Linked DNA regions of Homo sapiens. The protein of the gene in region 2 binds, or shares a complex with, the protein of the main gene of each other region. Each region holds a gene or a part of one and is shown on either strand. Other genes may lie near its edges. The genes, in order: UBE2I, IPO13, EIF1AX and RAN. A codon is read from its position in the direction of its gene.

Region 1 (8,881 bases), on a different chromosome or scaffold from region 2:
GGGGCCTCTAGGCGGCTCTGTCCAGTCCTCAGCAGGAGGGCTGCCTGTGGCAGGGTCCCAGGCCCGTCTGGCCTCTCTGTGGCCTGGCCTTGCCTGGCTGTGAGGATAGCCTTGCCCATGGTCCTTCAGTGTCTGGAGCACTGGCCTGAGGCTTCAGAGACTTGCCTGATGCCTGGCCTCGCTCAGACCCCGGGCACCTGGGAGGTCGTGCCTCCTTGAAATGGCCACTCGCCAGGCTGCTTTGCACCGCACCGGGCACAGGCTGCGGCCACTCAGGAAGCCCATCCTGGGGCTGGGGAAGCGAGAGCTGTGAGTCCTCAAGTCGCAGCTGGGCTGCTCCACGTGGGAGTGGAGGGTGGAGGAACGTGTGGAGTTTCGGAGTCCAGCCCAGTGCGGAGACAGCCTTGAAACCGTGGTTGGCGGGCGCTCCACTCCGCTCTGGGCTCGAACCCTGCCTGACCATAGCTGTGCCCCCCACTTTCTCCCTGTCTGGCCCCTGGCTCCCCCCCCCTCACTTAGAGGAGGGCACGGGGAAGGGCAAACGGTCCAGAGGGCGGGCGGCCTGCGGGCTCCTCTGCATCATGTGAGGAGGGCGTGGGGAAGGACATCCCGGTGGGGCCCGGTCTGGGGCTGCCTCCAGCCCGGGCTGCCTGTCTTGGACTTAGTCGTGGACCTGGAGGCCAGTGCCCGGCTGGCCCCTGTCACCCTCTCGCTGTGACGCCAGCGCCTGCTGACTGGAGGACCCAGGTTCCTTCGCCTGCTTTTTCTCAGGCTGCCCTGAGGATCTGTGTTTGGTGAAAAGGAGCCAAATTCACCTGCAGGGCAGGCGGCTCTAGCAGCTTCAGAAGCCTGGTGCCCTGGCGACACTGGACCTGCCTTGGCTTCTTTGATCCCAACCCCACCCCCGATTTCTGCTCTGCTGACTGGGGAAGTCATCGTGCCACCCAGAACCTGAGTGCGGGCCTCTCAGAGCTCCTTCGTCCGTGGGTCTGCCGGGGACTGGGCCTTGTCTCCCTAACGAGTGCCAGGTGAGGCTGCGGCGGCTCCGACGCAGGTGGAGCTGCTGACCTGGCCCCTTTCTGCGGCTGCGAGGTGTGTGAGGTTCGTGGGCCTCCACAGGTGTGGGAGCCATCCAGGTCCCCAGGGCCCTTGTGGCTATTCTAGGACAGCCCAAGCCGTAGTAGGGACGGCCCCCCACAGCTTAGAAGACCTGGCTCAGTCCCCCAGCTTTGTAGAGGTGGCTCTTGTTTGGTGTTGAGATATCAGACTTGGGGGTAGTAGCTTCAGTGTTCCCATGGACTTTGAAAACCAGCACACACTTAGGTTTGAATTCTTGGGCAAGTTTTGTATCTTGAGCGCTGTTTTTCGTGGGTAAAGGTGGCCACCAGTAGGGTGACAGTTGAGGGTGGCATTGAGGCTGCTGGCCCTGTCTGCCTGGTGTCCCCAGTGACAGTGCTGGCCGACAGGCTCCCGCCGAGAACGCAAAGGCGAAGGTGCCAAGCCCCCGAGGTCCCGTGCAGATGTGTGGAGCTGGAATCTGGCGTGTGTGCCGCTGCCTCTGATCAGGGACCTGGTCCCCTACCCCATGCTCCTGCCCTGCCCTGCAGGACCCGTCTGTCCCCTGAAGCCACAGGGACGTGGTAGTGGCTGCACGGTCTGGGAAGGGTGTCCCCGTGGAGGGCTCCTCTCTCAGTGAGGCTGAGCCTCTGCCCTGTGGTACTTGTTCTGCTCTGTCTTCAACATGGTGAAACCCTATCTCTACTAAAAATACAAAAATTAGCTGGGCGTGGTGGCACACGCCTGTAGTCTCAGCTACTCGGGAGGCTGAGGCAGGAGAATTGCTTGAACTCAGGAGGCGGAGGTTGCAGTGAGCCGAGATCGTGCCACTGCATTCCAGCCTGAGCAATAGAATGAGACTCTGTCTCAAAAAAAAAAAAAAAAAAAAAAAAAAAGAATAACAGGTGTCCCCTGGCCCAGCCTGAGTCTCAGTTCTGAGCGCCTGATACTAAGGCAGGGACCCAGCACCCCACATCCATCTGGGGCCCCAGCCCTGCCTAGTCCCCACCTGATGGTATGGTGAGGACCCTGCCATGTCAGCCACCACAGGGTGGCAGCTACCCCCCAGCCGCAGCGGCCCAGCCTCTGAACATCTGTCTCCTCACCTTCGAGCAGAGGCCGCAGCATGTGTCGCAGACCAGGGCTGGGTTGGGGCCATGGGGAGGGGTCCTACCTGCCCCCGCCTCCCGGTGATCTGGGCGCCGCTCACAAGGCCTCCCCTGGTAGACCCCCGGGGTCGGACGACGGCTTGCAAGAAGAGAGTCCCTGCTGGGCCAGGCCACCGTATGTTAGGAGCAAGCCTGCCTGCTGCGGGCCACGTGCGCGTGCTGGGGTGGCAGGAGCCCGCTCGCCTCTCCTGACCCCGTGCTCTGCCTCCTGTGTTCCAGGGACTTTGAACATGTCGGGGATCGCCCTCAGCAGACTCGCCCAGGAGAGGAAAGCATGGAGGAAAGACCACCCATTTGTAAGGAGGGCTTCATTTCTGTGTGCAGTGCCGCGGACAGGCTCCCTCGGCTGAAACCGCGCCCTCCCTACTGGGAGGGAGCTGGTCGCGTGCCTGGGCTGGGCCGGTGGGACTCGCAGGCCGGTTCTTGGTGGTTTTGCTCAAACTAGATGCCGCCACGCTGATATGCTTTTGTGGTTGTTTTCTTTTCTCTCAGGGTTTCGTGGCTGTCCCAACAAAAAATCCCGATGGCACGATGAACCTCATGAACTGGGAGTGCGCCATTCCAGGAAAGAAAGGGGTAAGGGGCGCTGCCGGCCTCCTGCCTGTCGGGGCTCAGCAGATGCGTGCGGCAGTGCCATGGGGATACTCCGCTCAGATCCCTGCCGTCCGTGACGGCCACCCTTGTCACAGGCCGCGGTCAACAGCTCAGATCCCCAGCTGTGGCCTGGCCCCCGCCCCGTGAGGACTTGAGCTCAGAAGGTGGTGCTGGCAAGGTTGGGGTGACAGCTGTGTCCCTACCGAGGGCATTTCTGGTTGAGAAGGAAGCAGGCTGGGCCTGGCCGGGCACAGGGCTGAGCTGTGGCAGAGGGGAAGGGGCTCTGATGTGTGTTGGGAGCAGGCCTGAGGGGCGGGCAGCCTTTGCGTGCTGGAACCCGGGATTCTGCTGTGTCCTTCCAGGTGTGGCTCAGGTCGCGGGAGCTGGGTTTGCAGGAGAGCCACCCCGGCCTAAAACCGTCTACTGGAGAACCTCCTGGGGCACAGGGACTGGCGGCAGCCACCTAGGATGCCTGCTTGGGGCCCCGTGTGTCTGTGGCAAGCAGGGCGGCCCATGTGCCTGTCCTCTTTGCCCGGCTCACATGAAGTGCTTGGCCAGGGACTCCAGGCCGGCTTGCACATAAGGTTCATGCTCGTGGACTCTGAAGGAAGGAGAGATCCCTGAGGTGTTGGTCCTGCCCGAGGCCTTGTTCCCTCCGGCCCATGCCAGCCTCTGGGTTTCGCTCTGAAACTCACAGCAGCTCCGGCCCCCTGAGCTGAGCAGTCCCAGCAGGACTCAGCTTTGCCCGAGACAGGATGTGGCTTGGATTTGTCACTTGTCTGAGGCTCTGCTGAGAACGTCCCTTGCCCTTCACATTACGGCGAGGCAGGTGCGCGCGCGGCCCCAAGGAAGACGGGAGTGGTGTCGGGTTGTGGGGTGGCAAAGGCGCCTCATCCAGGCGGGACCTGGGGCAGGGGCTTGCAGAACACCCTGGGGTGAGGGCACGGGTGTGCTCTTGGCGCTGCCGGCCCCAGTGTGCGGCACTCGTTGCCCCCCAGCCCAGCCCCCGACCCCCGTCTCCTCCTCTCCTTTCCAGGAGGGCCTTTCCGACTCACTCTCTGGGCATGGCAGAGGTCCTGACCGCCCCCTTGGTGGGGCTGGTCCAGGCTTCAGGCTGGTATGGGAGCCGCCTCTGTCGGGCCTCTGGCCCCCGGTGTCCTCGCAGTCCTGGAGGTTGTGTCCTAGAAGCGATCCCCTTCCTCCTGGGCCGGCCTGCGGCAGGCAAGCAGCCCATCTCACCACGGTTTATTTCCCCACAGACTCCGTGGGAAGGAGGCTTGTTTAAACTACGGATGCTTTTCAAAGATGATTATCCATCTTCGCCACCAAAATGTAAGTAGCTCCCTGTTCAGTGTCCTGGAAGTCGGCCTGTTCCTGCGGGGATTGGAGTCCTCTCCAAAGAGGCCCGTGGCTGTGGCCGTGGCGCCCTGGTCCGGGCGATCCATGGAGCTGGGAGGGAGTGAGATCACAGATTTGGAGGTCGGCTTTGATCCCTGATCCCCGCCTCAGGCTGCAGATGCGAGTCTGTTTCCAGCTCCACGGGTGGGCGGTGCACGTAATAGACTTAGTCTCTCATCCCAGCTAATTGGCTGGGAAGCTCCAGAGTCCTTTGCAGGGAGAGGCTGTGAGATCCAGGCTGGAGCTCCTGGGCTAGGAGTGCCTGGACCCTCAGTGATTGTTGGCGATGAAGACAGGATTTGGTGCCCACAAGACCCCAGCCCTGGATGGGATGGACGTGCAGAAGCGCCACCACTCCGAGTCTCACTGGAGGGTTTATCTTGCCCCACCTCACTGCTCTTCCTGTGGGCTCTCGCAGTCTCTCCCACCCGGGGCTGCGTCTGCAGCCGGGCAGGCATAGAGCAGGGGAGCAGCAGAGAAGGCGCGAGAAGAAAGGGCTGAGGCCAGGTTCGACTTTGAGCCTACAGCTAAGTTAGTGATCTCAGTCAGTTCAGCAAAACTCAGGAGAGGGAGGAGAGGGCCGCCACGTCCCTGCCGTCCCATAGCTGGAAATCGGCAGGCCCTTTCTGTGGTGAGTTCCACGCATTAACACGTGCCCAGCACCTAGACAGCGCCTGGCCACGGTGAGGCGAGAGTGCTGTGTAAAAGCTTCCACTGCAATTGTCACTCAAGACACACAAGTGTTTTCCACAGTGGCAGTGACCAGAGGAGCTTGAGGACTGCTGACAGCACCAGCTGGTCGAGACTTGCTTCATTTTTGGATTGTCCTTTGCTGTTTGATTTTTTTTTTAAACCATGAGCAGGTATTACTTAAGATGACTTATTTTAATTAAGAAAAATATAAGAATGAGACACAGTAGCTGCTTTCATTGATTCTGTTCAACCGTTGATTGGAATTCCAAGCAAATGCAGCAAGACAAGAAAAAGAAGTCACAACGGAAGAGGTGGGGAGGAAGGCCAGGACAACAGCTCAGTAAAGCTGAGGTGCAAGGCTGGGCACGGTGGCTCACACCTGGAATCCCAGCACTTTTGGAGGCCGAGGTGGGAGGATCACCTGAGGTGAAGACCAGCCTGGACAACATGGTGAAACCCTGTCTCTACTAAAAAAAACAAACAAACAAACAAAAATTAGCGGGTGTGGTGGTGGGTGCCTTTAATCCCAGCTGCTCGGGAGGCTGAGGCAGGAGAAGTGCTTGAATCCAGGAGGCGGGTCCAGTGAGCCGAGATCGCGCCACTACACTCCAGCCTGGGCAGCAGGGCAAGACCCTGTCTCAAAAAAAAAAAAAGAAAAGAAAAGTAGCACAGGACCTGGTAAAGGAAACAAAGCTAAATAATAAATATAAAAATGAAGTCGAGATTGAGGTACACAAATCTGCTTTTATATCATTTCAGCGAGCAAGGTTTTAAAACTGCCATTTATAGTAGCATGAAATACGTTGGAATAAATGCAATAAAAGATTGGTTCAGGACCTCTGTACCGAAAACTGTAGAATATTGCAAGGGAAACCAAGGCCGGCCTGAGCGGTAGCTGAGCTCTGCCGTGTGTGTGGAGGGGAACACACGACATTGTACAGACAGCCCTTCTCTCCAGGCTCGTCTGCAGATTCCATGTGATCCCAGTTGGAGTCAAGCACATCTTGTTGGAAACTGTCCCATGGACCCAGGAAATGCAGAAACGTGGAGGCCTTGGCTTCTTGGTGGGGTGGCGAGACCCAGGCTGAGGCTCCGTGGGTGCAGAGCACACCCACCCACCCCCCACTAGACCTGCCACGGGACACGGTGATGGAGACTGCAGGCTTGCTGAGAAGACAGGCAGGCAGACCCGCGGACAGAACGAGGAGTCCGGAGGCCACGCATGTGGTGGTTTGGGCTGTGACACCTGAGGGATATTCCAGCAGGAGAGACGAGCTCTGCCTCCCACCATAGAGAAACAGCTTCCAGATGGCTTGTGGTGCCCAAGCAGGACAGCGTGGAGAGGAAGACCCGGGATGGTGTCCGTGAGCCCTGGGCAGGCAGGGATCTCTTCACCAGGGATGCAGTGAAGTGCTGGCCGGAGGGAGATTGACGAGTTGACTAAGTTGAAATTAAGAATCTCTCTTTATCATAAAGACTGCAGTTGGCGCCGGGCAGGAGGGCACACTACAGTGTATGTACGTACCTCAGCCCTCACCCTGAATCTACCAAGAGCTCCTGGGAATCAGTAAGAAGGCTGCCATGACGTCCAGCGTGTCCCTCACAGGAAAGGCCTCCACCCAGCCAGCAAATGCGGCAGGGATGCCTGGCTTTGCCAAAGAGTGAAAGCCTCCCCAGTGGGATCTGCCGTAGCGCACAGGGGAGCAGACGGAGCCGCGGCGCAGGGCAGCGGGAGCCTCAGCCACCGCTGGAGAGAGCGGATGTTCTGAACGTTTCCCCTGGACGCTGCCTGCCACACCAGTGGAAGCTGAGCTCATGCTGTAGGACCTGGCTGTTCACTTGAGTCAGTCGAGATTCACAGAAGCACATACATGTGTCCACCAGAGGCACAGATGGGTGCCGGTGTCACCCCCACTTGCCCCAGCCCAGACGTCCTAGGATGACAGGTAGGGAAGAGTGAAGAGGCCACATGATGCCTGGCGGACAGTCCAGACAGGAGGGCACCCCCTTTGTGTTCCTTCTTTGAAGCGCGGGAGCGGCCAAGCCGGAGGCCATGAGGAAGTAGGAGGCAGCCTCTACCTTGGGAGGGACAGGTGGACCTGGCAGTGCTGGCATCCAGCATCTGTGCCTTTCTGCGGGTAAGTTGTGATCGGCAGAAGAAACGAGATTGAGAATCAGATTAAATTGAAATTAGGCAATTTTTGTTTTTGCCAAAAGATTCCCTTAGAAGAGGAAAAGGTCGGGCCGGGCGCGTTGGCTCACACCTGTGATCCCAGCACTTTGGGAGGCCAAGGCAAGTGAATCACTTAAGGTCAGGAGTTTGAGACCAGCCTGACCAACAGTGGAGGAACCCCGGTTCTAATAAAATAGAAAAATTGGCCAAGCTTGATGGCGGGTGCCTGTAACCTCAGCTACTCTGGAGGCCAAGGTGAGGCGGGAGAATCACTTGAGCCCGGGAGGTGAAGGCTGCAGTGAGCCGAGATCCAGCCTGGGCACCACAGTGAAACTCCATCTCAAAAAATTAAAAAAGCAAAAAGTCAAGCCCCAAGCAGAAGAGCCCTGTAAGACGTATCGCTTGAGGAACTTCTGCGAAGCAGTCGCCAGGAAGCAGCCTGGGCCGAAAGGGGCGCTCAGCGGTCACCAGCAGGCGCAGCGTAGCACCACGGAGTGGCTGCCGTGCACCTCACCCGGTGGCTGGAATCCGCCAGCGACGCAGCCTGCGTGAGCAGCCTGGAAGCAGCACGGCTTGAGGGCCAACACCGTCACCCCACATTCCACAGCAGCGCGCTCACGCGTGTTCGCACTCAGGACAGCCACGCAGCTGCTGGTGTCGCCCGTGTGCTCCTGCGGTGTGGGATGGTCGCGGTGTGGGACGGTCTGCGGTGGTGTCTTCGCGTTCCCCAGGGAGTGTGCCCTGTGCATCTCCATGGTACCTGAAGTCCAGGAAGCTGCCTGCGGATGTTGCAGTTGGGATTACGGGGCAGATGCAGTGGTCGGTAGGAGCGAGTGTTCGGGGAAGCTGTAGGTGTTCGTGGCGCGTTGGCTTTCTGGTAATTCCTCCGGCTGCACTAGACATGCCGCACTGTGTGTCCTTCCGTAGCATTGAGAGAGAAGAGGGAGGATGCCCAGGTAAAAGATGGGAAATAGCCTAGAATATCAACTGTGATGGTCCCTGGTGGGGCTAATGGTGGCAAACTTTTCTGCTTTTTTGTAAAGAAATAACACAGGGTCCTAAAAGCCCGTATATCCTGGAAGCAGAGGGTCTGCGTCGGAACAGCCGACTCTGGAAGGGCGTTGGCTATGTCCCTGGACGTCTCCTGCAGCTCCTCCCATCTCCCCTGAGTCTGGCCCAGCTGGAAAGGATGTGGGGGCCACAGGTTAAGTGGCCACCCTGGGGCCTGTGTTCCCAGACTGCCTGGCTGTGCTGGGAGTTCTGTCCTGGGAGAGACACAGCTTCGTCTCGGCTGCGGCCGTGTCCCCAAGGCTCTGTTCCCTGTGTGCAAAGGTGGATATGTCTTCCTTTAGTCTCCTCATGGCCACAATTTAATTTTTTTGAAAAGTTTTTGGCCAAATAACCTGGCTACCAACCCGGGGCCCCAGTGTTGGGAGGAGGGTGATGTGGGGAAGGACGTGACTCTGGGACAGTGCCTGCCTCCAAAAAGTGCTTCCTTTCTTCCTCTTCCTCCAGGTAAATTCGAACCACCATTATTTCACCCGAATGTGTACCCTTCGGGGACAGTGTGCCTGTCCATCTTAGAGGAGGACAAGGACTGGAGGCCAGCCATCACAATCAAACAGGTACGGGGCCTCCGCCTCTGGCACCGGCAGGGCTGCCTTAGTCTCCCCTCCGGACACGTGGGTCTGTGGTCATTCTCTGTGGCTGAGGCCGAGTCTCACGGTGTCTCCCTTTCAAACTGCTCACACCCGTCTTGTGTTTTTGTCTCTGGCACAGATCCTATTAGGAATACAGG
Region 2 (6,454 bases):
CGGCTACACTGCATAATTTTAAACTTGGTGCCGACCGGCTCGGGTTTGAATATTGTGCTTGGTCACTTGCTACTGAGTATCTTAGGAATGTCCCTATGCCCATTTCCTTATCTGAAGAATGGGGAGTTGTGACAATAGTACCTCTTAATAAGATTGTTGTGAGGGTCTAATTAATTTATATACAAAACTTTACAAAGTAGTTCTTTGGATATCGCATGCAGTGAAAGCATTTGCTATTTAATCAGCCAAATACTGAGCACTTACTGTACATTAGGCACTTCATTTTTAGTGTTTACAGTCTTTGGAGTAAGAATTATCCCGAGTGGTACCAAGGACATGACTGGCACATCCTCAAGTCACAGGAGATGCTCTGCACAGCTCCAGCCATCCTCAAACACTGCTGCTTCCCAGCAATACCCCCAGTGCATACCACATAGACCTCTACCCTCCAGCCCCTCACATCCCCTCTACTCCCCATGTTTACTTATATGCAAACACCCCCACATGCAACATCACTTGAAATGCCCTCCTTACATACCTCTGTCAGATACGGAAACTGAGGTTCAAAGAGACTACTTGTGTAATAAGACACTAATTCTGTGGCACAACCAGCATCAAACCCGGATCTATTGAACAGGGAAGGAGTGGGATGAATGTGGGAGTAACGAGTTCCCCATCACCCACAAGGAGATTGAAAGCTCAAGGGTAAAAGTGGGGAGAACTCATTCTGCTCTTCAGATCTTACTGAGGAGAAGCCTGGGGTACCTGAGAGGCAGCCTAGGTGAAACTATAGCTGAGGAGACAGAAAGGGAGGCAACACTGCTAAGGGAGAAAAGCAAGAATAGGTCAGGAGCTGTCCCTGGTGCTGATTGATCCCTGACCATCCTGTGCTGGAGGTCCTGTGTAAGCGGGGAGCAGCGGACATATGGACAACCTTAGGTCCTACTTTCCTCTTTTCTCCTCTGCGGCTGAGATATCTTCTCTCCTTCACCTCCCTGCCACCCACCCACCCCCCAATACACACACACTCAGCCCCTTTCTATAGCCCTCCTCAACCATATGCAAGTTCGATGTTGTATAACTCCACACCAGAAACCCCTCCCGGAAGTCAAAACTCCACTCCATTTCTTCCTTCCTAAACGGACCCAGCCCTACCCCACTTGCAGCCCAAAGTCTCAAGTCCTCTACCTAGAAAGCCTACTATTCCTGTCAAAAACTTTCTCCATGCAGCCTTCCCTCACTTCCTACCATTCTCCATGGTAGCTATGGACTAGATCAACCTTTGTTCAGGGCAGAACGACGCAGGACAGAGCTAGGGGCCTAATATTCGGCGGTGTTGATTAAATAAATGTATGCATACATGCATGTTGGGATTAATTTAATGGGGATGGGGGGGTTGATGACACTACTGCAACCACCCCGCCCCAAGGACAATGACAGTATTCTGAAGGGCTCCAGCCTAGGTGGCTTGGCTACAGTAGTATCTCTTCCAACCTGGGAGCTAGAGGATGTTCCCACCATTCCCTCCCAAGGCCTGGGTCCAAGCATCCTCCCATCCTTCCCCCAGGCCTTCTGGACCCAGGCTTTCAGTTAGGTGGTGGTGACAGCAGAAAGGAGGCAGAGACAGCAGTGAGGGTCCAGGTTTACTCTTTGGGAATAGGGAAGGATGAAGAGAAGGGGTGGATGGGATGGGGGCACCCCTCAGTAGTCAGCTGTGTAATCTGTGCCATGGAGACCCCGGCACAGCAGTGTGAACTCCTTCACCATCTCCTTCACCCGCCTCTTGTTCACTCGCTCGCTGAAGGAGAAAAGGGAGAGCAGGTTAGCACCAGCCACCACCACTGCCCCCTCTCTGCCTGACCCCAGGCCCACCCCAGCTCTGCTCACCGAAGGATCTGCTGGCTGAAGGTATCCTTCTGTTCAGGGCTGAGGCGGGCAGAGGGGAAACCAGGTGGCTGCAGGGCCTCCTTGATCCACATGCTCAGGAGGCTGAAGCAGTGCTTGTTCAGGGCGAACAGGATATCGGCAAAGCAGTCCATGAGGCTGCGGGAGGCCTGGCCCCCAATGGCCTGAGGGAGAGGGGTTCTCAGCACACCAGGGTGTTGCCCCTTCCGCCGCTTCTGCAGCAAGAATGCCTAACTGCCCTCTGGACAGTTCCTAAGCCAAACTGCACATCACAGTGAGCGCTGCTTTTTGAGAGCCAGCTGATCCCCACAGCAATCCTAACAACTTTCAGGCATTTAATTGAAGAAGAAACAGAATCTGAGAGCTTAGGGGACCAAAGGCTCAAGCCTCCCAGAAGGCCAGCTGCCTCAGCAGTGAGGGGCCCTCACCCCCATCAAACCCCCCTTTGCTCCGTCTCACCTCCAGCACTGCTATGAGCAGCATACGACCGTCTTCCTGTACCACCTTTCCCACAGACTCTACTTCCCCACACCGAGGCAGCAGCTCTGTCTGCAGAGGATGGAGAGGCCCATCAGCCCAGCTCCTTCCCAGCTCTCCCTGAGGACAAGACCTGTACACCCCAGCCCTACTGTCTGAAGTCCTGGGCAGGGGAGGGCACTGGGGTGGCAGTGGGTCAGGGTTCAGCATGGGACTCACAAAGAAGCCACAGGAGGCCTTGACAGTAGGTGCCTCAGGGAACTTGAGGGCCAGCACAGCTGTGGGAAAGGCAGAGGCAGATCAGTTTAACGATCCTTCTAGGGGAGCCCCAGGCCCACCTGTCCATCTCGCCCCACTTACCACACTGGAACACAGCTTTGACATCCAATCGTTCACACAGGAACAAATCTGGCTTCCGCTTCAGAGCCTGCAGGAGGTGGAGCTGGTAAGCCCAGCCCCAGCCAGCTCCAAGGACCATCCCCCCCACTCACCTGCCACCCCAGCCCCCAACTTCACACCTCACAGGTAGAGGCTGCCAAAACCAGCTACCCAGCCATCTCTGGGGGACCCGGACCACCTCAGAGTTCAGTAGGTCAGGTGAGGACAGCTCAAGGGATGCTATGTACATGTATGTGTACATGAACACGCAGGTGTACGTGAGAGAGGTTGGGGGTGGGGATCATAATGCAGAAAGTTTGGGTTCCAGACACCTTTCCCTCCCCCTCCATCAGGGCCAGATGTCTCGCAGGCTCTAGGTTGCCAGCAGTGACTTCATGTTGATTCACAGAGGGAGTTAAGCACCCCCAGTTTGTGAACAGGGTAGCAGGAAGAAGAGATGGCAGCCAGACAGGGAGCCCTCAGCCCAACAGCCCTCCTCCCATGTCCCTCCTGTATTCCTGAGGCACCCTCCAGCTCCTGCTCAAAAAGAAGAAAAGTACAGCAGGAGCCTTGGAGCCTCAGCCCCATCTTTCACCCAGGGTACCCTGTGTCCAGGCCCTCTTCGGCCATACACACACCAAGGAGCCAGTGCTGCTGTGGGTGAGGGGGAAGAGATGAAGTGAAGGGGGCAGATGGCCTGCCCCGAGTGGTACCAGGACATGACTGGCACATCCTCAGGTCACAGGAGATGCTCTGCACAGCTCCAGTCATCCTCAAACACTGCTGCTCCCCAGCAATGCCCCCAGTGCATACCACATAGACCTCTACCCTCCAGCCCCTCACATCCCCTCTACCCCCCATGTTTACTCATGTGCAAACACCCCCACATGCACCATCACTTGAAATGCCCTCCTTACACACTTCTCTAACACCGCTAACATACACACACTCTCCCCATCTGGAACACACCCTCATTACACAGTCATACACCAAACACCTGCACATCCCCAAACCATGTCCACACACCTACACCCTCAGCCTTCCCACAGTCCCCCTGTGCACTCTTCCAACATACCCATCCACAAATACACATTCAGACACCCTCCGCATCAAAGATACACCTTTGAAAACACCCACACACATATCCATCCAGGCCCAGAACACTCCCTATTCTTCCCTCCTCCCACCCTACCCATCCCCCAGAAACTAGACTTGTAAGTTCCAGGAGAGCAAGAACTGTGCCTGGTTTTGCTCGCTATCATATCCTCAGTACCTAGCAAAGTACAGCATGTATCACACACTCAATAAATATCTGTGGAATGATTAAGCAAAGAAACACTCCATTTACCCCAATTCACAGGTTAGGGGGTCTGCGTGCTAGGATCCCCTAACACACAGAAGCCCCCATCACACTAACTTCATACCCCCACAGCCCAACATGCATCTCCAAACCATACTCTGATACAGACATACCAATGCCACAACATACACTCCTATCCTCCATAATATACACTCCGACAACCCAACACACACACCTCCAACACACGTCCACGCTCTAAATCCATCAAGGCCTAACACATCAACAAACAACACAAAACACACAACACATCAACATACAGCACACATCAAGGCACACATTCATCTCAGCACCCAACACAATTCACATACTACTTACAGGTGATTTCTGTTCCCTTCCCAAACCAAACTCAAAACATACAAAATAAGGTCTCACACACTGAAACACATACAAAATGCAAACACATCCTAGCATGGAGCCTGCACTCCACCTCCTAGCAGCAGCTCAACCTCTCCAACAGCCCAACTCTGGGCTCCACCGCGCACATTCCTCTTCAGCCCCTCGCTTTGGAGCTGCTCCCAGCCTACCTCTCAGGAGCAGGCTGGGGGCACTGAGGCAGGCAGTTCCCGGCAGGAGCACGGGGACAGTGTACCCCAGACCCTTCAACTCCAGCCCTACACGTGAACTTCTTGGGCAACAAGAAGCTGCTGGGCGCAGTCACCACCCCCTCCCTTTCCCATTCCCCACCCGATGCCAGCCCAGCTCCCTCCGTTTGGGATCAGCCTCTCCCTGGTCTTTGTAGAAGACTGAGCTAGTGAGGCATAGGGGCACTAAAGGAGGATGTTGGGTTGTCAACTTCCACGGAAACAGATGAAGAAACTCTATTCAACTGAACAGAAAAAAAATTTGTCAACAGAAAGCTAAAAATAGGCTTAAATTGAATTTCAACATAAGAGAAAGAGAAAGAGAGAGAACAGAACGTGAATGAATAAAACTAAAACACACCTGTGCCAGGAGTTGCATAAATGAATCAACAATATCAGGATGATCCCTGGGCCCTAAAATATAATAAAGATGGAACTTAAGAAAAAATTATACAAACAGCAACTCAACCTCATATAGTTATGTGGGACTGAGAGCCTGCAGGGAGACAGCGTGGGGGCACATGAGCAGCAGGAAGCAAGATAAAGAAACAAAACATACAAAAACCATGAACTGGGAGAAGCCCAACAGAAAGAGACGGCAAAGTGAAGGACGGGCCTGCCCCAGCTCCCTCCAAGGGGCCTTCCGCCTACTCCCCACTCCTCCTCAGGCCATCCCCTCATGTTCCCTTGGTACTTGAGCAATTCTGGACTCCATATAGCTGAAGAAACGGCCACCACACTTACTGTGGCCTCTGGCAGGTTGGGGTAGCCCTACACTGCTCCTAGCACATACCTCCCATCAGCCAGTCATTGAAGAGGAAAGCTGGGATGGCGGTGGGGGGGTGGGGGAGTCAGTCCTTGGTATCTCCTTTTGAGGTTTATCTGAGGGCCCTAGAAAGGCCAGGGCATCAGAGCCTGAGTAAGTGCCACCTCACTTCAATGGCCTTAGGGCTCTTGGTCTGGCAAAGGAAAATAATCTATTCAGTCCACTTAAACCACAGGACTCTTGCTTAGGTAGGGCAGTGCCCAGCATGCTCTGGAGATGGCCTGGCAAGTCACTGGCAGGGCCCAGAGGAGGAAACAGTATCATAAGGCCAAAAACAAGAGCCCCACCCCAGCAAACCTCCTCCACATGGACATGGACTCTGCAGAGAGCCAAGCTCAGGGCTGAGGACTAGTTCCCATCATCTGGACATGCCAAGAAACAGGGAAACAAGAAACATGTCATCCTATGGTCCAGTGGGAAGGCAGAGCCCGAGGAAGGAATGGCTAAGATTGGGATGGCATAACAGGTATGGGAGCCATCCTGTCCAGCGAGACAACCAACAAGCCCAACGTATATGATGTTGGACACTGCTGCCTCCAGTTCTGATCATTCCTGAGGCAAGAATATGGCATGCACCTGGAGCTCCTACCCAGGCTTCTCCACTCTCAGGAGGATGTGGTACAAAACCATCTGCCTAAGACACCACTAAGTAGCTGTGTGATCTTGCGCAAGCCACAAATGCTCAGTTTCCCCATCTGTAAAGCAGATAATCTCTGCCCTGCTTCCTTCTCTAGGCTATGAAGAGTCACCAATAAAGTCTGTCCCTTTGGTATCTGAACCCTGAGTTATTTAAGTCCTAGAAAGTGAGGCCCAGTGTGCACCATGCAGGTTTGATATTCAGCAGCCACCCTGCTAGAGGTGGGCCAGAAAATGAGAAGGAAAGGTTCCAAGGGCAGGGAGCCCTCCCCCTCCTTTATTTAACAGTGT
Region 3 (7,528 bases), on a different chromosome or scaffold from region 2:
TGACAAGTAAATGGGCAGAATTATTGCATAGTGGTTAAGAGCATGGTCACTGGGGTCATATAATAGAAACAGGGATGTTGAGTAGGGACCAGCATTATAAAAGAAAGTAAATTGGGTACCGAACAGATCTTCTTTATTTTTTAAGAGACAGTGTCTCGCTATGTTGCCCAGGCTAGCCTGGAACCTCCTGGGCTTGCTCAAGTGATCCTCCCACCTGAGCCTCCTGAGTAGCTGAGACCCTAGGCGCACACCACTGCACCCAGTGAGATTTCAATATTTATGGTACTCTGCTACCAAAAGTTTGAAAACCACAGTTCTCTGTCCAGACACTGTCTTCACTTAATTTTGAAAGTATCGGGTTCCTTGCATAGGGCCTGGCTTTAGAAGACACCCAAGATTTCCGCTTAGAAGAATATGTATAGAATTGCATTTTTATTTCAAAAGGATGGGTGCTAAAGTGAAATGTTTTTCTATATTTTTTAACATAATATCTGCTATTTATGTGTATTTTATGTCAGAAAAATCCCCAAAGGAAATTCCAAGAAGGGTAGGGAGGTGATAATGTGTTAATGTTGGGATTGGAGATTGTAAATTTAATATGATTGTGTAGCTAAAATAGATGAATTTTTTAATTTAAGTGATCTTTTAAAAAATGGTTTTATAAGCCTTAATTTCATTTTATTTCATACTGTTTTACAGATAATTAATGTCATTTACCTCCTTTTCTTTTTTTTAAACCATCAGGTAAAGGAGGTAAAAACAGACGCAGGGGTAAGAATGAGAATGAATCTGAAAAAAGAGAACTGGTATTCAAAGAGGATGGTCAGGGTAAGTGTTTTCATAAATTACGCTTTTTAAAATAACATCCTTTCTTTTTTAGCTGGGGACTTTATTTTTTTGAGACAGCGTCTTGCCCATCGCCCAGGGTGAAGTGTGGTGGCACGATTACAGCCCACTGCAGCCATGACCTCCTGGGCTGAAGCAGTCCTTCCACTTCAGCCTCCCGAGTATTTGGGACTACAGGCACACACCACCACGTCTGGCTAATTTTAAAAATTTTTTTAGGCTGGGCGCAGTGGCTCACGTCTGTAATCCCAGCACTTTGGGAGGCCAAGGCGGGCGGATCACGAGGTCAGGAGTTCGAGACCAGCCTGACCAACATGATGAAACCCCGTCTCTACTAAAATTACAAAAATTAGCTGGGTGTGGTGGCACGTGCCTGTAATCCCAGCTACTCAGGAGGCTGAGGCAGGAGAATTGTTTGAACCTGGGAGGCGGAGGTTGCAGTGAGCCGAGATCACACCACTGCACTCCAGCCTGGGTGACAGAGGGAGACTCTGTCTCAAAAAAAAAAAAAAAAAAAAAAAAAAAACTGTATAGAGATGAGGTCTTCATATGTTGCCCTGGCTATTCTCGAACTCCTGGGCTCAAGTGATTCTCCCACCATGACCTCCCAAAGTACTGGGAACTAAGAATGTGTCGTATAGTTCAGAGGGAATTGAGCTATGGTTGACAGTTCTGTGATTTAGTTGGCAGTTCTATGATTAGCATTTCTGGTAGTGAATGGTACATATAATATGTTGAGTAGACCATGGACATTTGAAGGATGAGCCTGAGGCCCTTATAGACCTCTCCATTCTCCAGTGCCATTAGCATATAACTTCGTAAACTACAATAAAATGAAACTGAACAGTTAACTGATTTTATTAGACTGAAGAATATTGTAAGTGCCAGACCAAGATACATAGCACTAGTCAAATAAATCCTAACTGGATCGTTTGCCCTTTCCTGTTACTTTTATTTCGAGTCATTTCAAACCTACAGAAAGTTGCAGTATTAGTGCAACAAACTCCCTTAAATCCTTCATCTGTACACACACATATAAAGAAATATATATGTGGGATTTTTTAATTTTTTTTTTGAGATGGAGTCTCGCTCTGTCGCCCAGGCTGGAGTGCAGTGGCGCGATCTCGGCTCACTACAAGCTCCACCTCCCGGGTTCACGCCATTCTCCTGCCTCAGCCTCCCAAGTAGCTGGGACTACAGGCACCCGCCACCATGCCTGGGTATTTTTTTTGTATTTTTAGTAGAGACGGGGTTTCACTGTGTTAGCCAGGATGGGTCTCGATCTCCTAACCTCGTGATCCACCCGTCTCGGCCTCCGAAAGTGCTGGGATTACAGGCGTGAGCCACCGCACCTAGCCCCATATGTAGGATTTCTTCAGGACCATTTGAAATTTAGAGACATCATGTTACTTTTCCCTTACTTGATCATGTATCTTCTAAGTGCAAGTATATTTTCTTATATAACTAGAAGAGAATTATCACACTCAGGTAATTTGACATTGATATAATATCTAGTATATACTCCATATTTCCTCAGGTATTCCAATTATTTCCAGTACTTTAGCTTTTAATAGAACTTTGGGTGGATTTATTACGCCATACATATAAACCAGTAAACATGAGATACGTTTTCTGGCTAAAAGTCCTTTGGTTTCTTAGCCTTGGTCATCCTTGCCTCTAAAATAGCAGCTGACTTGACTTGGGCATACACTGTTTTATTATTACTTTTTCCCTCACTTCAGAAGAAAGGCTGCCTTTGAGTTGACCAACCATGTTGAGGTGGTAGATGGGTGCTAAACTCACTGTAGTCTGAGTAATTGACTTCCACAAGTCATCCCCACTGTTGAGCCTTTCAAAATGAAGTCTCAGTATATTTACAAATTAATGGACATCCTCTCTGGGGATTAGTCATATTCTAATTCAACAAAGACATTGTTTGAAGTTTGTTTTTGTTTGCTAAATGAACTAAAAATTATGAGATTTGCACCTAAAGGTACTGAGGTAAAGGAGAGCCAAAAGTGGGGTAGTCAATCTACTTATTCAGAATGAGTCGATAATTTAAACATGTCTAATAGCAGAGACAGTATATTATAGAAATGGCATTACATTCTCTGAGATCTGCTTTTACTGAAGTGGATCAATGATGAAACTAGCCAAATCTGAGCATCAGAAGGCTTTCCGGTCTACCTGATGCATGATCTCTACAGTTCTGAGAAGCAGAACTATAAAACAATGTAAAACAATAAGGGCATATGTCTGGTGTGTGTGTGGGGGGTGTGTGTGTGTGTGCACGCACACGTGTTTATAAAGGTAGCAGTTGTAGGAATGAATGAGATTGGGGGTGAGGGGGTGCATATGTATGTCTATGAAAGCCTAATCATTTCTGGGCAATGATGTAAAGGTTTTACGACTGACCTTTGTAACTATGAAGTTTTCTACACTTGACCTGAGCTCAGAAAAAAGAAAGAAAGAAAGAAATGTCATCATAGAGTCTTAGTTCTAGCTCTGCCGTTAACTAACTTGATGTTTATCACTCCCTTATGTTTGTTTATAGTTTTACTATATGTATTTATTCCCAACTGGTGCAACTTTATTCTCTTGACAGTTTTATGTGGACTTTAAGTTGCTGTTATCAAAAGTTGAACAATATTCCATACCCTTTTCCTTTCTCCCCGCTAGAGTATGCTCAGGTAATCAAAATGTTGGGAAATGGACGGCTAGAAGCAATGTGTTTCGATGGTGTAAAGAGGTTATGTCACATCAGAGGAAAATTGAGAAAAAAGGTAGGTGTGATTTGTTTTACTTTAATATAAAATTGGTTAAGGGGGAAAATCCCTCTACAGTTTTTAACTGTCCATGGACTTCATTTTTGGAAATTCCCAAAAGACTTACCTTGGTAAACAGTGATTTACCTATAAGTAAAATAGCAAGGTCTGTAATGGTAATTTTATACAGGTTCTAATGTTAAAGAAGCATTTGTATCACTTGTATTGTATTCCTGCCCAAAAAGTCCAAATTGAGAGACATTCTGCAAAAACAAACGGCCCAGTTTTTTTTTTCCTTGTCTTTTTTTTGATACAGGGTCTCACTCTTATCACCCAGCCTGTAGAGTAGTGGCATGATCTGGGCTCACTGTAACCTCACCCTCATTGGTTCAAGTGATCCTCCCACTTCAGCCTCCCGTGTAGCAGGGGCTACAGGCCTGTGCCACCATGCCTGGCTAATTTCTGTATTTTTTGTAGAGATGGGGTTTCTTCATGTTGCTTAGGCTGGTTTCGAATCCTCAGCTCAAGCAATCAGCCCACCTTGGCCTCCCAAAATGCTGGGATTATAGGCATGAGCCACTGTACCCAGCCAGATGGCCCAGCTCTTAATGCAATGTTACTGTCATGAAAGTTTCAAAAAAAAAAAAAAAAAAAAGCTGGGGTACTATTCTAGTTGCAAGGAGACTTAAAGAGACCTGACAGTTAAATGGAGTAGGTTGCCCTTGTTTGGATTCTGATTTAGGAATTGGACATATAGCTGTAAAGTGTACATTCAGAAAATTTGAATATGAGTTATATAAGCATTGTATTAATGTTGCATCTCTTGAATGTCATCGTGAATGGACTGCCTTGGAAAGTAATGATTAATTCACCATCACAGTAGTTATTCAGGCAGATTTATTAATCAGGTTGACTAAAAGTCCCAACTCTGATTTTGTATTTATTTTTTTTAATTTGGTATGTTAATCCTTCTATTCCCAAACTAAAATCTTTTTTTCTTTTTCTTTCTTTTTTTTTTGAGACAGAGTCTCACTCTGTCATCCAGGCTGGAGTGCAGTGGCACAATCTTGGCTCAGTGCAATCTCCGCCTCCCAGATTCAAGTGTTTCTCCAGCCTCAGCCTCCTGAGTAGCTGGGATTATAGGCATGCGCCACCACGCCTCGCTAATTTTTGTATTTTTAGTAAAGACAAGGTTTTACCATTTTGGCCAGGCTGGTCTTGAACTCCTGACCTCAAGTGACCCGCCGGCCTCGGCCTCCCAAAGTGCTGGGATTATAGGCGTGAGCCACAATGCCAGCCCAAACTAAAATCTCTTAATTTCTTTTCTTTTTTTTTTTCTTTTAAAGAAGTTTATTTATTTGTTTTTTTGAGACGGAGTCTCACTCTGTTGCCCAGGCTGGAGTGCAGTAGCGCAGTCTTGGCTCACTGCAACCTCCGTCTCCCAGGTTCAAGTGATTCTCCAGCCTCAGCCTCCCGAGTAGCTGGGACTACAAGGGCATGCCACCACGCCCAGCTAATTTTTGTATTTTTTAGTAGAGACGGGTTTTTGCCATGTTGGCCAGGATGGTCTCGAACTCCTGACCTCAGGTGATCCGCCCACCTTGGCCTCCCAGAGTGCTGGGATTACAGGCATGAGCCACCGCTCCTGGCCTAAAATCTCTTAATTTCTAAACTAATTGATTGTTACTCTGGAATTTCTTGATTCTTCGTTATTTTAAATGTGACGGGCAGTGACTTTTCTTTTGTAGGTTTGGATAAATACCTCGGACATTATTTTGGTTGGTCTCCGAGACTACCAGGTAAAATTTACATGTAAATTTTTCCTATTTTACTGGCTTGAATTTGATGAGCCATTTCTTAAGAGCCAGTTTTGTTTCAGGCATTGTGCTAGGTATCCCAGGGATTTATGTTTAAATCAAAATCTGGGAGCCATTATTCTAGGGGATACAGCTGAATGAGTTAAGTGCCCATCCCACAAAAGGCTCATAGCCTGGTAGTGGAGAGAGTTAAGCACACAAGTAATTACAATACACATCACAACATAGGTATGTGCTATAAATCTAAAGGAGCACTTGGGAAAGAAAGAAAGTGGTGGTTGCCTTTCGTGATGGTAACCCTTGACTCTGTAGACTCATTGTGGGTCTGTGAGATCCATTTGACATCCACCTATTGGAAATCATCCCTGTATGATACTATCTCTATTTGTATAGCCTCGATCATACTTTGATTTAAAAAAAAAAAAAACCCAGAATAAATAATTTAAATCTTCACTTTAAGCCATTGTTTCTCAACTGTGGGCAGTTTTGCCCTCCGAGGGACATTGGCAGTGTCTGGAGACTTTTCTGGTTGTCACAACTGGGGGATGGGTGCAGTGCTGCTAGCATGTAGTAGATAGAGGCTGGGGTGGGCACAGGACAGCATCCCATAATAGAGAATGGTCCGCCTCACAATAATCCATAGCGCTGAGGTGAGAAAGCTTGCTTTAAATTCATACCATTTTAATGTCCATTTTTTTCTTATGATCTAACAATAACCCCAGAAATAGGAAGAATAAGTAATTTCCTGTTCGATAGATAAGGAAACCAAGGGTCCAAAATGAGTAACATTTTGACTGTAAAGTGACAGCCAGGACCAACTTCTGATTTGAAATTATTCATGATCTTTCCGTGCCCCTCCTACTTACAGGGTGGTCAATGGCTCGATAGCATCTTCTGGAAGCTTGTTAGAAATACAGGTTCTTTGACTCTTCAGTCAGAACATGCATTTTAATAAGATCTCCATAGGCTTCTATACACTTTACATTTTAAGAAGTACTGGTCTGAATCACACTGTCCTTGAAGTTGAAGCAATCAATTTTCTCCCTTAACTGAGTTAAATTATTTTCAAATAGGGAAGTAGAAACATTCTAAGGCAGTATTTCTCAATGGGACTTTTGCATCAGAAATACCTAAAGAACTTCTCACAATACTAATTCTTGGGCTTCTCTTCACATCTACTAATCTGTCTTCAGAAGATATAAAAGCTCCACAGGAGATTGTGATTGATACCTAGGCAAAGAAGCACAGATAATACAGAAAGGTATAATTTCCTTAGGTCATTATACCAGTCTCAGTTCAGTCTCAGTTTTGGAATTGCAGTGTTTGATCACCCTGCAAATTATTGTCCCAGGGAACTTTTGTACTTCAAAAGACTTCTGATCAAAGGGTAATATTAAATAATCTAAAATATGGGGTATGCACAGTTCTGCTCTTATTAAAGTGAGATCTCTATATTTCCCAAGCTTGTTAATCATTCAGGCATGTACATAAGCTTCCTCTTGGGTTAAACCTAAGGATCTTTTTCAGAGGGTATGAGAAAGCTTTAAAATTTAAAAGGAGAAAGATTTATAGTAAAACGGTGAGATTTGATTGTTTATTCAATATGAGAATTTATGAAATAACTGATAATATTTTGTTATGATCAGTTTTTTAAAGTTATTTGTCTCTATTTAAGGATAACAAAGCTGATGTAATTTTAAAATACAATGCAGACGAAGCTAGAAGTCTGAAGGCATACGGCGAGCTTCCAGAGCATGGTAATGTCTGAGTTACTGTATTAACTTGTCATATGGTATTTAGGTTATGTGTTGCTGGTTAGGTGAAGGAACTATGGATTTTGCTTATTTACTTTAGTGCTCACATTTTTAGTTTTAAGTATGCCTGCCTATGCTTCATAATACTAGATACTATAAGAAAGAAATTACTGGAATTCTGTTCCTAATAAATATGGTGAGGAGTTCTGTAAGCTTTGGACTTCCACATAATGCTAACTAAAGGAATAATTTTGTTATAGTATCTATTAAAATTCCTTCCTCGAGAGACTGTCAGTGCGCATATGGGTTAAACACGAAGTGCAAGTCAGCCGGGCATGGTGGCACA
Region 4 (4,994 bases), on a different chromosome or scaffold from region 2:
CATGAGAACCGCTTGAACCCGGGAGGCAGAGGTTGCAGTGAGCCGAGACGGCGCCACTGCACTCCAGCCTGGGAGACAGAGCGAGACTCTAAAAAATAAATAAATAAATTAAATAAATAAATAAATAAAATTAAAAAGATAGTGTAGGCTACAAACCTCAGGAAGAAAATACCAGCATGACTTCAGAATAGTCAGACCTAATGGTGTATAAAGTTCTCCCGGCTCCTCTCCACCCACCTCCATCAATCCCACCCTATCTCTAACCCCCAAGTTCTCTGTTCCTCGAGGTTCCCATAGAACATTTAATAAACACTAGGGACATGAGAGAGCAGCGACATGGCCCTCGCCCTCGTGGCAATTAGTCTAGGAAGGGAAAGTCGCTATCGCAAATTTGCCATGCTGACTAGGGCTGAAGGCAATCTTGTAATGTCTGTAGTCGGACATCCAACTCAAGGTAAAAAGCAGAGTGAACTCTAAAGGAACTAAAGCATTAACTGGTAGGACCGACTTCAGGAGAGGGAAGGGGGAGTTCTGGAAAGCAGCATGCACACAGATCTCAAGATGCACGTGTGACCAGAGCCTGCAAGACCTTGTAGGAAATGTGGAGCAGGCGAGATGCATCAGATGTTTTTTGAATAGGACTCTGACCCCTTAACTAAAGATAAGGTTTCCATGGTTAGGTGCCGTTTCTCCCCACCATGCCCTCGGCTTCAAGGGTAAAAGGTGCTGCAAGGAGTTAGGATAGGTGCTGTCCTAGTACAGGGTCTGCCTCATACAGGGAAAGCTTAGTCTCACGTAATCTTGCTGGGCAGGATAGCCCTGTACAGCCCGAGTGGCAGAAAACATCATACACGATGTCCGTCAGTTTGCTGGCAAGAAAAGCTGAATCCAACCCTCATCCCATTTGCTCAGCAGGTAATTTTTTGTGTTTCTGATCTGTTTTTGCAAAAGAAACCAGAAATTCTCTGTACTTGAGTTCCTTCAGGTGAACAGTTAGCCAGGAAACCAGTCCTCTTTGGAGGCTATTTTGGAGTCTCATCTTTTCTAGACATTTTATGATTGATACAATTTTTTAAAAAATCCCATTCTATGTGGTTTTTTAAAAAAACTGGCTCTCACACAAATTGAAACTACTAATTTACCAGTTTCACATTATATCCACACAAGACCTATGCACTAACTATGCTTTTTCTTAATGACTTTGCTCTAATAAGCTATTACTGGTTTGCAGTAACTTCATATAAAGCTTTCAAGGCTTCCCCCATTAGACACGAGATTTCAAAAAATGGAGAGCAGACTTTTCCCATTTGTACAATCTGGAGAGAACTGACCCCTTCCCCGCCGCCCCCCCAAAAGATAATAATCTCTGCTAACTCTTCAGCATTTCCTAAAGCAAATACTAGAGATGATTCAAAAAATCCAGGCAAAGTAGAAGCAATATATTTTGCAACAATTATTCTTTCAATAAAGGACTTGTAAATTCTCTCCCACACCACGTTAGACAGGTAAGTGACGTCACTTCCAAATTTCAACTGTTACATAGAAGATCCAGAATGTCAACACCACTTGCAATCTCCACAAGGTTACAAACAACACATACACCTTCAATTCAAAATACCTGAATGAAAGGTTTCATCCCAATTATGGGGAAAAAACTTCCCATCTCACAGGCTGGTTAGAAACTGGTTCTGAATACAGCGTAACATACACAGCAATTCAGATCTTAAGAAACTCAACTGTTGCCAGTTAATACAGTAAGTAGAACTTTATTCAGCTTCACCCTTATTTCATTTTTCCATATATTTAAGTGATCCTTTCTATACCTTTTAAGGTAAGCAATCATCTCAAGATTATCAGACATCTAAAGAAAACTTTGGTAAACTGGACTATAGTAATCGTATGAGAAAAAAATAGCTCAAGATTCCTAACTGCTACAAGAATAGTGTTGATGGGATCAAACTCCTAATTATCCTAATAGACCTAATTCATTTTTAAATGTGGAAAATATGCAAGATAAATTAAATGCTTAGTTAAAAAAAAAAAAAAGTTTCACCAACTGTTCTCCATTACTGAGAAGCCCCCACACTGCCCCACTGTGCATATTCCTAGTATTTCATCCATGTCCTGCTCTGCTGTGCTGCCCTACAAAAAAACCCTCCCGGGGGGGAAAAAAAAACAAAAAAACGGTGTAGTGTGAACTGCTGAAGAACTTAAATGTTCAAGACATCTTTAAAGTCTAGGAGTACCTGAAAACTGTGGGTAAACATGGACCATTTTCCTTGCGTATCAACTTCACACTAAGCATCTAACATTCAAACAAAAAAGTGCAAAATTTGTAATTATTTTTAACAGCAAGAATTCCCAACCTCCTGCCATCCACTGATGTTCCATCCTGTTTGAGGTTCTACATTAAAACATGATTACTTTTGCCATAAAAGAAAATATTACCCTTAAAATATCTATTTGATATGTACAAACCACATTTTTATTCTGACAGGTCACAGATTTTGAGCAAGTGCTTCCCTAGGTGACCCTACCTAGCCAATATGAAGGTGGAGCAAACACTGCTTTAGCTTAACTGCACTAATATTTACACCATGTAACCCTTCTAACCAAATAGAATACTGCTGACCTGTCATCATCAGTTTGTGTGACATGGCTCAAATGTACAAAAATAAACATAGGGAGAAATTAACCCAATAGATTTCAAATTAAGTGATAAAAGCAAGGCAATTCAAATATTAACATGGCATAAAACTTCCCTACTTTAGTGGTTTCCAAATGCTATTTATAAACAAGGGATGAGTTCACTTGCTTAGATATTTGAAATACAACTTTATTCTGATTCTAAACGAAAAGGAATGGGAATGACAGTAACAAACAAGATTTCACCACTGAATATTGTGATGTGACTGCAGCAGTCTTATATATGAAACTCAAGGAATCAACTGCGTTCCAAAACAGCTAAATATGCAGGTCCAAACAATGAAGTTATTTTTTAAACTGCCACATTCACTCCGAAGCCCACTCATCTCCTTCAGCATCCCACAGATGAAGCACATGTTCCGCTTAGCTAGATAATAATGAGGTGGCACACACGCTGCACCGCTGACATCACAGGACAGCTGCCTATAAAACTAGACTTCTGACGCTGGGCTCCAGCTTCATTCTCACAGGTCATCATCCTCATCCGGGAGAGCAGTTGTCTGAGCAACCTAGACGAAGAGATGGAAAAACGTTAACACTCCAGATCAAAACTGCCAGGAATAAACAAGCCAAACCGAACAATCTGAACAGCAAAGTGGCCACAATACCTCTAAGTCGTGCTCATACTGTGCTGCCAAAGCTGGGTCCATGACAACTTCTGGTGGGGCGAGAGCAGGCATGGCAACAAATTCCAAGTTAGGGTCTCCAATGAGCTTCCTAGCAAGCCAGAGGAAGGGCTTTTCAAAGTTGTAGTTACTTTTGGCAGAAATGTCGTAGTACTGTTTAAAAGAAAGGTAAAATTACTTTTTAAAATTCATTATTAAGATGACGATTTTTCTAGGACATTGCAAGATAAGAAAATGTTAAGATTCTTGGCAAGGCATGGTGGCTCATGCCTGTAATCCCAGCACTTTCGGGGGCTGAGGTGGGATTGCCTGAGGCCAATAGTACACGATCAGGCCTGGGCAACAGAGCAAGACCCCAACTCCACAAAAAAACAAATTAGGTGGGCATGGTGGTGAGTGCCTGTGAGCCCAGCTACTCAGAAGGCTGAGGTGGGAGGATTGCTTGAGCCCAGGAGTTCAGGGCTACAGTGAGCTATGTTCATGCCACTGCACTCCTGCCTGGGCAACAGAGCAAGACCCTGTCTCGAACAACAAATATATAAATACACAAACATTTCAGCTGACCAACCGGGCCAACAGTGAAACCCAATCTCTATCATTCTTTAAAAACAGTAGTATAAAAAAGACAAAATTATTTCCGGCCGGGCACAGTGGCTCATGCCTGTAATCCCAGCCCTTTAGGAGGCCAAGGCAAGTGGATCACTTGAGGTCAGGAGTTGGAGATCAGCCTGACCAACATGGTGGAAACCCCGTCTCTACTAGAAAAAAAAGTACAAAAATTAGCCAGGCGTGGTGGTACACACCTGTAATCCAGCTACTAGGGGAGCTGAGACAAAACTGCTTGAACCCGGGAGGCGGAGGTCGCAGTGAGCCAAGATTGCGACACTGCACTCCAGCATGGGGGACAGAGGAAGACTCCGTCTTGGGGAAAAAAAAATCATTTCCATATATAATAGACACTGGTTAATTTCATGGTCTTACATATAATCTCCGCTAAGAGAAATAACTCAGGAAGTTTTAATTTTACACACCTGAAGATTCTTCTTTCGGTGGAAGACAATGGATTTCGCCTTCACTTTCCTGTCCTTAATATCCACTTTGTTGCCACACAACACAATGGGGATGTTTTCACACACTCGTACCAGATCTCTATGCCAGTTAGGCACATTCTTGTAAGTAACTCTCGATGTTACATCAAACATTATGATGGCACACTGGGCTGAAGAAACATTTGTGGGAATTAGTACACTCAGTTTACTGCACAAGTGAAGAATGCTAAGAACCAGAGACTAGGATTCAACTAGTTATAGTCTTAGACCTCAACGAGTCACCTGTATCTCTCCCCTCACTTTCAAGGTCTCTGTCAATTCTAAAAATGTTAATACACAATTCCTCCTAAGAGAGATGAGCTGACCCTATCAAATCTCCCTGATATACTTCACCATTAATACTCCCCTCATCCCAAAAAAGTATCTGAAGTAATTAATGCTAAATGAGATTCTGGATAACCAAGCTGCCATATTCTGAGGGTAGGGCCTGGAAACACATTCTTCAGAAGGTCTTTAAATGGCTGGCTATACTGGAAAACATTATTCCTGTCTTAAAAAATCCAGATAGGCCAAGCAATGTGGCTCACGTCTGTAATCCCAGCACTTTGAGAGG

The links.
Region 1: the proteins of IPO13 (region 2) and UBE2I are in contact, whole or in part, in a crystal structure (PDB 2XWU), measured with the Homo sapiens proteins. Residues at the interface, in NP_055467.3 of Homo sapiens: Leu33, Tyr34, Tyr35, Asp36, Pro37, Ile39, Lys42, Gln46, Glu73, Tyr76, Gln178, Thr179, Arg181, Gln231, Glu261, Val264, Asn265, Met302, Glu303, His306, Arg310, Val313, Glu317, Asn318, Thr355, Ser358, Leu359, Leu361, Thr362, Ser413; in NP_003336.1 of Homo sapiens: Arg13 (codon at 2,492), Lys14 (codon at 2,495), Arg17 (codon at 2,504), Lys18 (codon at 2,507), Asp19 (codon at 2,510), His20 (codon at 2,513), Pro21 (codon at 2,516), Phe22 (codon at 2,519), Val25 (codon at 2,724), Val27 (codon at 2,730), Lys59 (codon at 4,103), Glu99, Asp100, Lys101, Asp102, Arg104, Lys110, Gln111, Leu114, Ile125, Gln126, Pro128, Ala131, Tyr134, Thr135, Cys138, Gln139, Ser158.
Region 3: the proteins of IPO13 (region 2) and EIF1AX are in contact, whole or in part, in a crystal structure (PDB 3ZJY), measured with the Homo sapiens proteins. Residues at the interface, in NP_055467.3 of Homo sapiens: Tyr365, Asp369, Leu372, Asn936 (codon at 1,788), Lys937 (codon at 1,785), Arg938 (codon at 1,782); in NP_001403.1 of Homo sapiens: Leu42 (codon at 3,549), Arg82 (codon at 5,399), Lys88 (codon at 7,110), Tyr106 (codon at 7,164), Gly107 (codon at 7,167), Glu108 (codon at 7,170).
Region 4: the proteins of IPO13 (region 2) and RAN are in contact, whole or in part, in a crystal structure (PDB 3ZJY), measured with the Homo sapiens proteins. Residues at the interface, in NP_055467.3 of Homo sapiens: Leu33, Tyr34, Tyr35, Ile39, Lys42, Gln46, Leu49, Met50, Gln53, Glu73, Tyr76, Phe77, Ser80, His83, Ile84, Ile118, Thr121, Arg122, Val125, Val172, Glu175, Glu176, Thr179, Ser414, Asp415, Arg784 (codon at 5,110), Asp785 (codon at 5,107), Pro787 (codon at 5,101), Asp788 (codon at 5,098), Pro829 (codon at 2,640); in NP_006316.1 of Homo sapiens: Lys37, Lys38, Tyr39, Leu43, Gly44, Val45, Val47, Pro49, Trp64, Gly74, Leu75, Arg76, Asp77, Gly78, Tyr79, Ile81, Gln82, Asn103, Arg106, Asp107, Arg110, Val111, Tyr147 (codon at 3,482), Trp163 (codon at 3,434), Arg166 (codon at 3,425).

Annotation. Positions count from the first base shown.
Region 1 is NC_000016.10:1,311,576-1,320,456, forward strand, and holds part of UBE2I (SUMO-conjugating enzyme UBC9), read left to right. Parts: intron 1-771; exon of another isoform or gene 772-1,028; intron 1,029-2,444; 5' UTR 2,445-2,455; coding exon 2,456-2,521; intron 2,522-2,717; coding exon 2,718-2,801; intron 2,802-4,078; coding exon 4,079-4,151; intron 4,152-8,598; coding exon 8,599-8,708; intron 8,709-8,862; coding exon 8,863-8,881. UniProt on the Homo sapiens protein: Accepts the ubiquitin-like proteins SUMO1, SUMO2, SUMO3, SUMO4 and SUMO1P1/SUMO5 from the UBLE1A-UBLE1B E1 complex and catalyzes their covalent attachment to other proteins with the help of an E3 ligase such as RANBP2, CBX4 and ZNF451.
Region 2 is NC_000001.11:43,962,930-43,969,383, reverse strand, and holds the end of IPO13 (importin-13), read right to left. Parts: intron 5,116-6,454; coding exon 5,063-5,115; intron 2,810-5,062; coding exon 2,743-2,809; intron 2,661-2,742; coding exon 2,602-2,660; intron 2,455-2,601; coding exon 2,365-2,454; intron 2,070-2,364; coding exon 1,888-2,069; intron 1,799-1,887; coding exon 1,702-1,798; 3' UTR 1,362-1,701; downstream 1-1,361. UniProt on the Homo sapiens protein: Functions in nuclear protein import as nuclear transport receptor. Serves as receptor for nuclear localization signals (NLS) in cargo substrates.
Region 3 is NC_000023.11:20,131,839-20,139,366, reverse strand, and holds part of EIF1AX (eukaryotic translation initiation factor 1A, X-chromosomal), read left to right. Parts: intron 1-744; coding exon 745-828; intron 829-2,953; exon of another isoform or gene 2,954-3,301; intron 3,302-3,525; coding exon 3,526-3,629; intron 3,630-5,359; coding exon 5,360-5,410; intron 5,411-7,103; coding exon 7,104-7,185; intron 7,186-7,528. UniProt on the Homo sapiens protein: Component of the 43S pre-initiation complex (43S PIC), which binds to the mRNA cap-proximal region, scans mRNA 5'-untranslated region, and locates the initiation codon. This protein enhances formation of the cap-proximal complex.
Region 4 is NC_000012.12:130,874,103-130,879,096, reverse strand, and holds the end of RAN (GTP-binding nuclear protein Ran), read right to left. Parts: intron 4,552-4,994; coding exon 4,364-4,551; intron 3,486-4,363; coding exon 3,315-3,485; intron 3,216-3,314; coding exon 3,171-3,215; 3' UTR 1,419-3,170; downstream 1-1,418. UniProt on the Homo sapiens protein: GTPase involved in nucleocytoplasmic transport, participating both to the import and the export from the nucleus of proteins and RNAs. Switches between a cytoplasmic GDP- and a nuclear GTP-bound state by nucleotide exchange and GTP hydrolysis.